Regions from separate parts of the Homo sapiens genome. Here region 2 is reported to be linked to region 1. The links are microRNA targets in miRTarBase. Many come from high-throughput screens and were not tested one by one. Region 1 holds a microRNA gene; the other region holds the end of a gene's coding sequence.
The links. The annotated mature microRNA hsa-miR-4441 reads ACAGGGAGGAGAUUGUA and lies in region 1 at 2,883-2,899, opposite strand. An mRNA with a match to its seed (bases 2 to 7 or 8) in the 3' UTR can be bound and repressed. Matches are read on the target gene's strand: a 7mer-m8 pairs with bases 2 to 8, a 7mer-A1 pairs with bases 2 to 7 and ends in A, and an 8mer does both.

Region 1 (4,632 bases):
GCATGCAGCCCTGATGTTCCCAGCACGAGAACTTGCTGCTCCGTTATCTGTGCTCATCACAGAAAAGGCGGAAGGGCAGCTACAGGTGAGGAGCGATGGACAAGAACCTTCCACCCCACAGAGTAGGTAATCGCTGTGAAGACGCACATGGAGGCTTTCCCGACATGTGGCTTCACACTGAGATGACCCTGTCCGCATGGTGTGTACATGGGCAATATCACAGCTCAGCGCGCAGGGAGCACGCCACACAGGGTCTACGCAGCCTGTCTGCGTGTCCTAGCGCTTCACTCTTTTGGGGATGGGTCCCCAGTCTTTAGCCATCAGCGACCTCACACTGCTCTCTTCCCAGGCACTCCTACCTGCTCCCTTAGGAGGAGCTGAGGGAGGGCTCCCGGCTCGCAGGTCCTTGGGTGTGGGGGACCCGCTGCTCTGCCGCATCCCCTGACCTGCCTCTCCGAAACAGCATGGCTGTCCTGGCTGTGCCATATTGTTTCTTTACCCAAACTCAGAAGGACTTCTCCAATTCAAATCATAACCCTACCTGACAGGGCCTGCTTTTTTCCCTTAAAAATTATGAAATAAATCATAAATACCAAAGAGAACACTAAATATGTATATATCTGGCTTTAAAAAGAGTAATAAGATGAATATCTTGAATATTAATTTCCGGTATAAGAATGAGTATACCTATTCGTGGAATTCAGATTCGGACATCATATAGCATTATTTAAAAAGAGATGACTCTTTTGGGGGCAGTGGCACCCCCCATTCCAGCAGGACCAGGTGCCCACACAGCAGCAGGAAGGCACGGGCTTCACTGGGGTGACTGAGAAGCAGACTGCCGCCTTCGACCAGGGTGAGGGTCCTCCCAGGCTCCCAGGCCACACACGCAAAGTAGATGTGGACACAGCCTCCTCCCCAACACCTGTCTTCCAAGAAGATCTCGTCGAGGGTGGCCCTGGCCGCTGCCGTCACCCACAGGCACATTTTTAGACACGCCAGGACCCCATTCGCCAGGGTCGGCTGACGGAAGCTGTACAATGACTTGTAGCAGGTTTGGGGCTTTACTTCTCCGCATCTTTGAGACCGTTTCCAGAAACCTAAGCTTCCCACATCCAAGAGCCCAGCTCCTCTGTCCACACGCTGCTGTCCGCTCGGGGACGGCAAAGGAGCAACCTGAGCTGCGCTGGCCAAGGCGGCTCTGCTTACCCAGTCCACGATGAGGATCTTGCTCACGCTCAACCTCTGCTGCAGAAGCTTGGCTGCCACGGCCACGGAGTTGAAGTAGCAAAAGCCCCTGCGGGAGAGAACTGACGCTGGAGACGAAGCGCAGGTGGGCGGTGGCCAGTTTCTCCACGGCCCGCCAGAGAGCCACTCGGGGTCCACGCAGACCTAAGAGGTCTCTGTGAGTGCAGAGCTCCTGAATACGTCGCAGGGAACCCTCAGTGATGCCGGAGAATCGGTTAACAGACAGACACGTACACACCCCACATGCAGACACACTCACACGCGTGCGCGCGCACACACACACACACACACACACAGCTCCCAAACAAGCCACTGGGGAATCTTAGCCAATGCCATAGGGTCGGCTAACCGACACGGACATGCACACACCCCACACAGACACACACACCACAGACAGAGACACACACACACCCCCCACAGACACACACACCACAGACAGAGACACACGTACACCCCACACAGACACACACACCACAGAGACACACCCTCCCACACAGACACACACACCATGCAACACGCCCTACACACATACATGCCCCACAGATACGCCCATACACCACAGACACACACCCCACACACACTCCACACAGACACACACCCCACACACACCCCACACCCCACAGATAGAGACACACACACCATGCAAACGCCCTACACACATATATGCCCCACAGATACGCCCATACCCACCCCCCCCACGTAGACACACATGCACAGATACACATGAACACCCCATACAGAAACACTCACACACACACAAACCACAGACACATACAAGCACACACACACATATACACATAAGCATATACCTATCACACACATCCACAGTTCCATACTGAGACAGACAGACACACACACACACACACACACACACACACACTCTCCTGCTTGGAGGTCCCCCACGCTCCTCTGGTAGGGAACCCTATTTCACATGTTACCAACATTTCCCTCATCTTCACCTGGAACCCTTCCTCTCAGGAGCTGCCGCCACGCCCCAGGAGACATGGCAGCCGTTCATCTCAGTTGCTTCCTGCTGACCTTCCTATATTCCAATACATAAATTACCTTTAATTTTAGAGAGTCTTACTCAAGAGACCAAGAAAACAAGCTATGAAAGTGATTCAAATAACAACGAAAACCTTCTTGATCTCAAATTCCCTTTGTCCGAATGACCACAGAAACGGAGAAACACTAGTTGTTTTGTTTTCAGAATCCGGGCTGGCATGGGGAAGCCCACACGCCCCAGGACATCCTAGACGCTGAGCTCCTGCAGCGGCTCACGGGGAGCACAGCGAAGAGCTGCAACAAAACACAATTCGTTTGTCTCCTCTGAGGTTTATTATTTGGAATATCCAACAACTCAGGTTCAAATTAGAAAAGAAACTTCAGAGAAATGAAACAAACAGGAAGCCTGGTGCCCAAGTGACTGTTCTGGGATGTGGAGCAAACACGTGGTTTTCAGGTAAAGCTACAAAGATTCCAACAAGCATCCCTCCCTGGCGGTTACAATCTCCTCCCTGTACACGAAGGACACTCTGCTCTAACACGCGGATCTGACTATCTCTCACGTACAATCTCCTCCCTGTACATGAAGGAGACTCTGCTCTAACACGCGGATCTGACTATCTCTCACGTACAATCTCCTCCCTGTACACGAAGGAGACTCTGCTCTAACATGCGGATCTGACTATCTCTCACGTACAGTCTCCTCCCTGTACACGAAGGAGACTCTGCTCTAACACGCGGATCTGACTATCTCGCACGTACAGTCTCTTCCCTGTACACGAAGGAGACTCTGCTCTAACACGCGGATCTGACTATCTCTCACGTACAGTCTCCTCCCTGCACATGAAGGAGACTCTGCTCTAACACGCGGATCTGACTATCTCGCACGTAGTCTCTTCCCTGTACACGAAGGAGACTCTGCTCTAACACGCGGATCTGACTATCTCGCACGTACAGTCTCTTCCCTGTACACGAAGGAGACTCTGCTCTAACACGCGGATCTGACTATCTCTCACGTACAGTCTCCTCCCTGCACATGAAGGAGACTCTGCTCTAACACGCGGATCTGACTATCTCGCACGTAGTCTCTTCCCTGTACACGAAGGAGACTCTGCTCTAACACGCGGATCTGACTATCTCGCACGTACAGTCTCCTCCCTGTACATGAAGGAGAATCTGCTCTAACACGCGGATCTGACTATCTCTCACGTACAGTCTCCTCCCCGTACATGAAGGAGAATCTGCTCTAACACGCGGATCTGACTGTCTCTCACGTACAATCTCTTCCCTGCACACGAAGGAGACTCTGCTCTAACATGTGGATCTGACTATCTCTCACGTACAGTCTCCTCCCTGTACGTGAAGGAGATTCTGCTCTAACACGCGGATCTGACTATCTCTCACGTCCTGCCGGCCCCTCCGTGGACGCCTGACTTCCCAGGGGTGACAGGGAGGCCCTTTCCCGGGCCCCTGCGGTTCTGTCTTGTTCTGACTGCTTCCTGGCCACAGCCTGATAGTGAACTTGTATCTGCACTTGTTCTTGCGTTGCCATCTGACAAACTGCTGCTCCAACTCTCCAAGGCAGAGCCCTATGCCACCTCCTCCTCACCGAAGCTGGCAAGATCAGGCACGCCTTCTCCATCTCCAGAGCATGGGGAGACGCTCTTTCTAGCACCACCCCTCCTCACTAGAGCGGCTACCGTCCCAGGAGACAGCATGCTCTTTGACGGGATAGATCATTCATTCACCACCCAGGCTGCAAGGCACTCCACAGACAGCTGCGGGTCTGTCCTGCCACTGGCTCTGGACACACAGGGATGGATCCGGGAGGACCCACACCCCACACTCGCCACCCTGCCCAGATCCTCAGCTGTATGGACCGTCGGCAGTCTCTGAAAGACCCGAAACAGCATCAGGATAGCTGCCTGCATGGACGTGGCTCTGTGGCTTGCTGCGTCAGTACCAGGCATTCGGCAGGCAGCTAAAAGGCCATGCGCAAAATGACCTGAGTCCTCTAGACAAGCAAGTGCTGCAGTGACTCACTTGAGGGTGAGTGGTGTTTCCTCTCCCAAGTGTTGACAACTACTCAACAACCAGAGGCTTCTCTGGACTAACCTCCACAGACCCTTTCCCATCCTTTCCTCTGATCTGTCTCCGTCATAACCGAGCAGTGATGCTCGCAGACTTTGGCATCTGCACTCCACACCCAGGAGCTGGAGCCAAGCCGGCATGCGGCACATCCTGGGTGGCCAGCAAACAGCAGCCCAGCTCCCCGCAGTCACTCACACACCCACCCAGCCCTAAGGGAGGGAAGGAAGACCTGGGTTCCCCTGCTGTGCGGGGCTGCGGCGTGTACTCACATGGGCGTGCTCTCCTCCG
Region 2 (3,785 bases), not on the chromosome of region 1:
GTCTGGCCTGCGAGAGGCAGCCGGCAACCCCCACTTGGCTGCTTTCAAAGAGGCTTAGGCAGCGCAAACTCGCCTGTTGCTGTGCGAAGCTCTCCTTTCTGTTCTGGGGGCAGCGGGAGCAGCTTCCCCGGGGGCCTATTTAGGGAGCTGGCTTTTATCTGTGGCTGAGCCTCCAACTGCGGCCGTTCCAAGCATGCAGTCGGAGCGTTAAAGGCAGGGGCCTGGGCAGACTTTGACGGGGCTTGGGCTGGACCACCAGTCCCCATGGCAGCCCTTCTCCTCAGCTATGGGCTCTGGGGTGGATTGCAGCCCCCACACCTGGCTCACCCCATGCCTTTTCTCCCTCCACAGGTGGCCAACGCACCCGCAAAAAGCGCTGCCCCTATACCAAGTACCAGATCCGAGAGCTGGAACGGGAGTTCTTCTTCAGCGTCTACATTAACAAAGAGAAGCGCCTGCAACTGTCCCGCATGCTCAACCTCACTGATCGTCAAGTCAAAATCTGGTTTCAGAACAGGAGAATGAAGGAAAAAAAAATTAACAGAGACCGTTTACAGTACTACTCAGCAAATCCACTCCTCTAAGACTCCAGCGGCTGGAATTGGGTGGGGGGCTTCATACACATGAGATAATATGCAGATTTTGCCCTTGACAAAGTCAAGCCACATGGTGACTTTTGAAAAGAGGTGTGCAAGAGAGGGATGCATGGAGATAGCCCCACAGGAGGTGGTCTGGGACTCTCTTGATTAAGATCTCAGTGGTTAAGATTCCTAATAATCATTGGATTCTGAGAGCTGTGCATCAGCTAGAATGACAGGTTTGGGACCCCTGGTGGTTCACTCTTGGAGCCTGCAGAGCTGCGGGCTGGGTGTGGTCTCCACTGGGGATTGGGCCCCTGCCAGACCCCCTGGAGACTAACCCCACCACACCCTCCCTCTACTGGGAGCCTACCCACCCCCAGGACCCCTGAGTAAAAAAGCTGTGTGCTCTCCAAGCCCAGTTCAGCTTGGGGACAGGGGCAGGAGGAAGGGGTAGGATTACTAGGTGCCCAGAATGAGGCTGCTTTCCAAAGCCAATGTGAACAGCGGCTGGACTTGGAGGTAGCTTTGAGGTGGAAGAGGGCTGCAAATCCTTGTGGGAAAAGAAATCTATGATTCCAGGTGGCATCAGTGTCTTTCCACTCCTCCTAGCCACCCACCACACTGATCCAGCCCTGAGTTCCTAGCCACCGCCTCCTACAGCCCACCTGGCTTTTCTTTCTACCAAATGAGGGTCTTGGTTCCAGCCTGCCACTCAGGCCCAAAGCCTCGACACAGAGTGGACTGTTCCCTGAGGTGGGAGATGTGGAAAAGCCAAGAGGCTGCAGCCAGGCCACTGGCCCCTGAGATCTCTGCAGGAAATGGCTGTGGAGTGTGGCAGTTTGGCAAACTCTCCACCACACGTAATGAAACTTGGATTTGCTCAGTGTCTGGCTGCAGAGCAGTGGGCCTGGCCAGCAGGTCCCCAGCTTTGGCTATGAGGGCCTTGAGTCCCCCAAAACACCGGGTTCCAGCACCACACTCAGCCCTCATTGGCTCTTGAACTGAGCTTGGAAGCTTCTGGTGACCTTCCAAGAGCCTGAGAGTGAGGTGGAATTATTTTAAAAGATAAATATTATATTATATATATATATATTTCCCTGAAGGAACCAAAGCGAATTTTAAAAGATGCAATGTAGAGGGGAAAAGAGATGATGAAAATATTTAAAGGCCCTATCTGTTTACAGTGTTCCGTGGTTAAACTCGCTCACTGCTAAGAATATTTGAATGTATGCTTCATACAGGGATGGTGTTCAAAAAACTTGTAAATAAAGGAACCATAATCAATTTTCTTTTCTTTCTTTCTCTTTTTCTTTTTTCTTTTGCCATTAGTTGATTTCCTTTAGGGTGTTGGAGGGGGTGGAAAAGGTATTGAGAATGGTCTTTTTAATCTCTTGCAACATTTGGAAAGAGTTAGGGAAATGCTCAGAGGCAGTCGGCCTGGCCGGCCTGGGGATCTCATCTGGGAAAGCCAGGCACCCTCCCATTGAATCTCCTTTGCCTCCCTGTGTTAAGAAATGTCTGTTGGCTCCATTTGTACTGGGAGTGTTGGCCTGTCCTCAATTCTGGTTCTTACCCACCGTGTGTGTTGCAGCACTTATACAGGCAACTGGGCACAAGGAAAATAAAGACGGTGGAAATTTGAGTATCCTGGTGTGACATTCCTCTCCCTGATCGCCTTTTACTACCAAATGTCTGCCCCCCTCCCCCCACCCCCCCAAAAAATGCCTTACCTAGTTGAGGAGCAAGTTATCAGGCCCCTGAGGGGGTGAGAAGGTGACTGAGTCAGGAATTGGCTACAACAGAAGCCAGGCTTAGGAAACCAAGGTGGTTGGCTACGTCCTTGTGGGAAGTGGGGACCTGGGTGGTATCTCAGGGCCTGGAATATAGGACTTTATCCCCTCAGACTGATCTCAGCCCTGGAGAGGGCCTTGGGGCCTGAGGTGGCCAACAGGTCAGACCCCAGGCTGCCCTCGCTCACCTCAGGACAGGTAGGCCTGCAGTGGGACCGTCCGGGGGCCCGTGGAGGCTTCAACAAGAGGGAGCCTGGTCTGGGTTCCAAGGCAGAGCAGACTCCCAGGAGCCTCTAAGGGTGCTTTCTCCCCAGCTCCCAGCTGAGGCTGCTTTTTCCCTTTGGGGGAAAAAAAAAGGATGCCGATTTCCTCTTTGTTTGCTGCCTTTGAACTTCTGCCTTAAAATTGGACATCACCCATAACCTTGAGGAGAAGGGCTGAAAGGACAGAGCCCTTTGTTGCCCACCCCACCCTCTCTTCAGCCACCCAGGCAGGGCCAGAGCAGCAGATAGGGTCGCATTTGGAGAGAGGCCCCAGACCCCACTCTGTTTATTTGTTTGTGTGTTTGTCTAACTGGCGCGACTGGGGAAATCGAGCTGAAAGGGTAGTGGGACAGATCTAGAGATGAATGTCTAGGTTGATAGGCAGACACGCAGACATGAACAAGGGCCCTCCTGGGGGGCAGGGAGGGGGCGGGCTGGGAAGCCTGGGTTTAGGGAAAGACTTCCTTTGGGATGGTTAAAGATTAACCAAAGTCTCTCAAGTTGCTAGAGAGAGTCTAGCCAGGAGGACTGCTCGCGGGCGGGCGGCGGGCGGGCGCGGGTTTGATTTCTGAGCCCTATAAAAGCCCATCCTCCGATGGCTGTGACAATGTGGTCGTAAACCCGTCCGGGGCCGGCCAATTTGCATATTTGGAATGCGCCGCTATAAACCCGGCTGGGGTTTTGCAGCGATTTCTTAGATGTAAAAATGAGATCTCAATAGCAGCGGGCTGGGCACATCCTCTCCTCTCTCCTTCTCTCTCTGCCCGGAGCTGGTTTCCGTCTCTCGGCTCGGGGCTGGAACTCCGGCCCAACCTAGGCGCGCAGCCGCCACGAGATGGCGCACTTCCGATCAATGTCAAAGCCGCCGGGGAGCCGGGAACCCCAGCATGATTCTTGGCCTTTGTTCGCTTCTGATACTAAGAGCAGCACGGTACATTATTTCACTTGTCCCGCTCCCCTTCATAACAGAAAAAGGGGACTCACCCTCAAGAAGTGATTGGTATGGTAATTTAAAGCAACGCGCATTCGCTAGGCCTCGCGAGCGTCGCCGCGCGGAGAAGCCAGCTGTCCCTTGGCAGTGATTTCGGAAATGTGTCAAGGTAAGAGGCCACAAGTTTAGCAATTTCAGTCTGGTGGGGCGGGAGTGGGGA

Region 2: the mRNA of HOXA11 is a reported target of hsa-miR-4441. Seed matches in the 3' UTR shown: 7mer-A1 at 1,327-1,333, 7mer-A1 at 1,676-1,682 and 7mer-m8 at 2,080-2,086.

Annotation. Positions count from the first base shown.
Region 1 is chr2:239,082,946-239,087,577 of GRCh38, forward strand. MIR4441 (microRNA 4441) reads right to left here and starts at 2,981; the gene lies at 2,882-2,981. It overlaps HDAC4 (histone deacetylase 4), which reads right to left. Exons shown (of 27, transcript NM_001378414.1): 19 at 4,614-4,632; 20 at 1,210-1,297.
Region 2 is chr7:27,179,595-27,183,379 of GRCh38, reverse strand. It overlaps HOXA11 (homeobox A11), which reads left to right. Exons shown (of 2, transcript NM_005523.6): 2 at 352-2,223. The coding sequence ends at 584. HOXA10-HOXA9 (HOXA10-HOXA9 readthrough) reads left to right here and starts at 3,141. Exons shown (of 3, transcript NM_001433944.1): 1 at 3,141-3,734. The coding sequence starts at 3,725. It also overlaps a transcript of HOXA10 not described here. RefSeq lists enhancers at 1-549, 3,037-3,638, 3,639-3,785.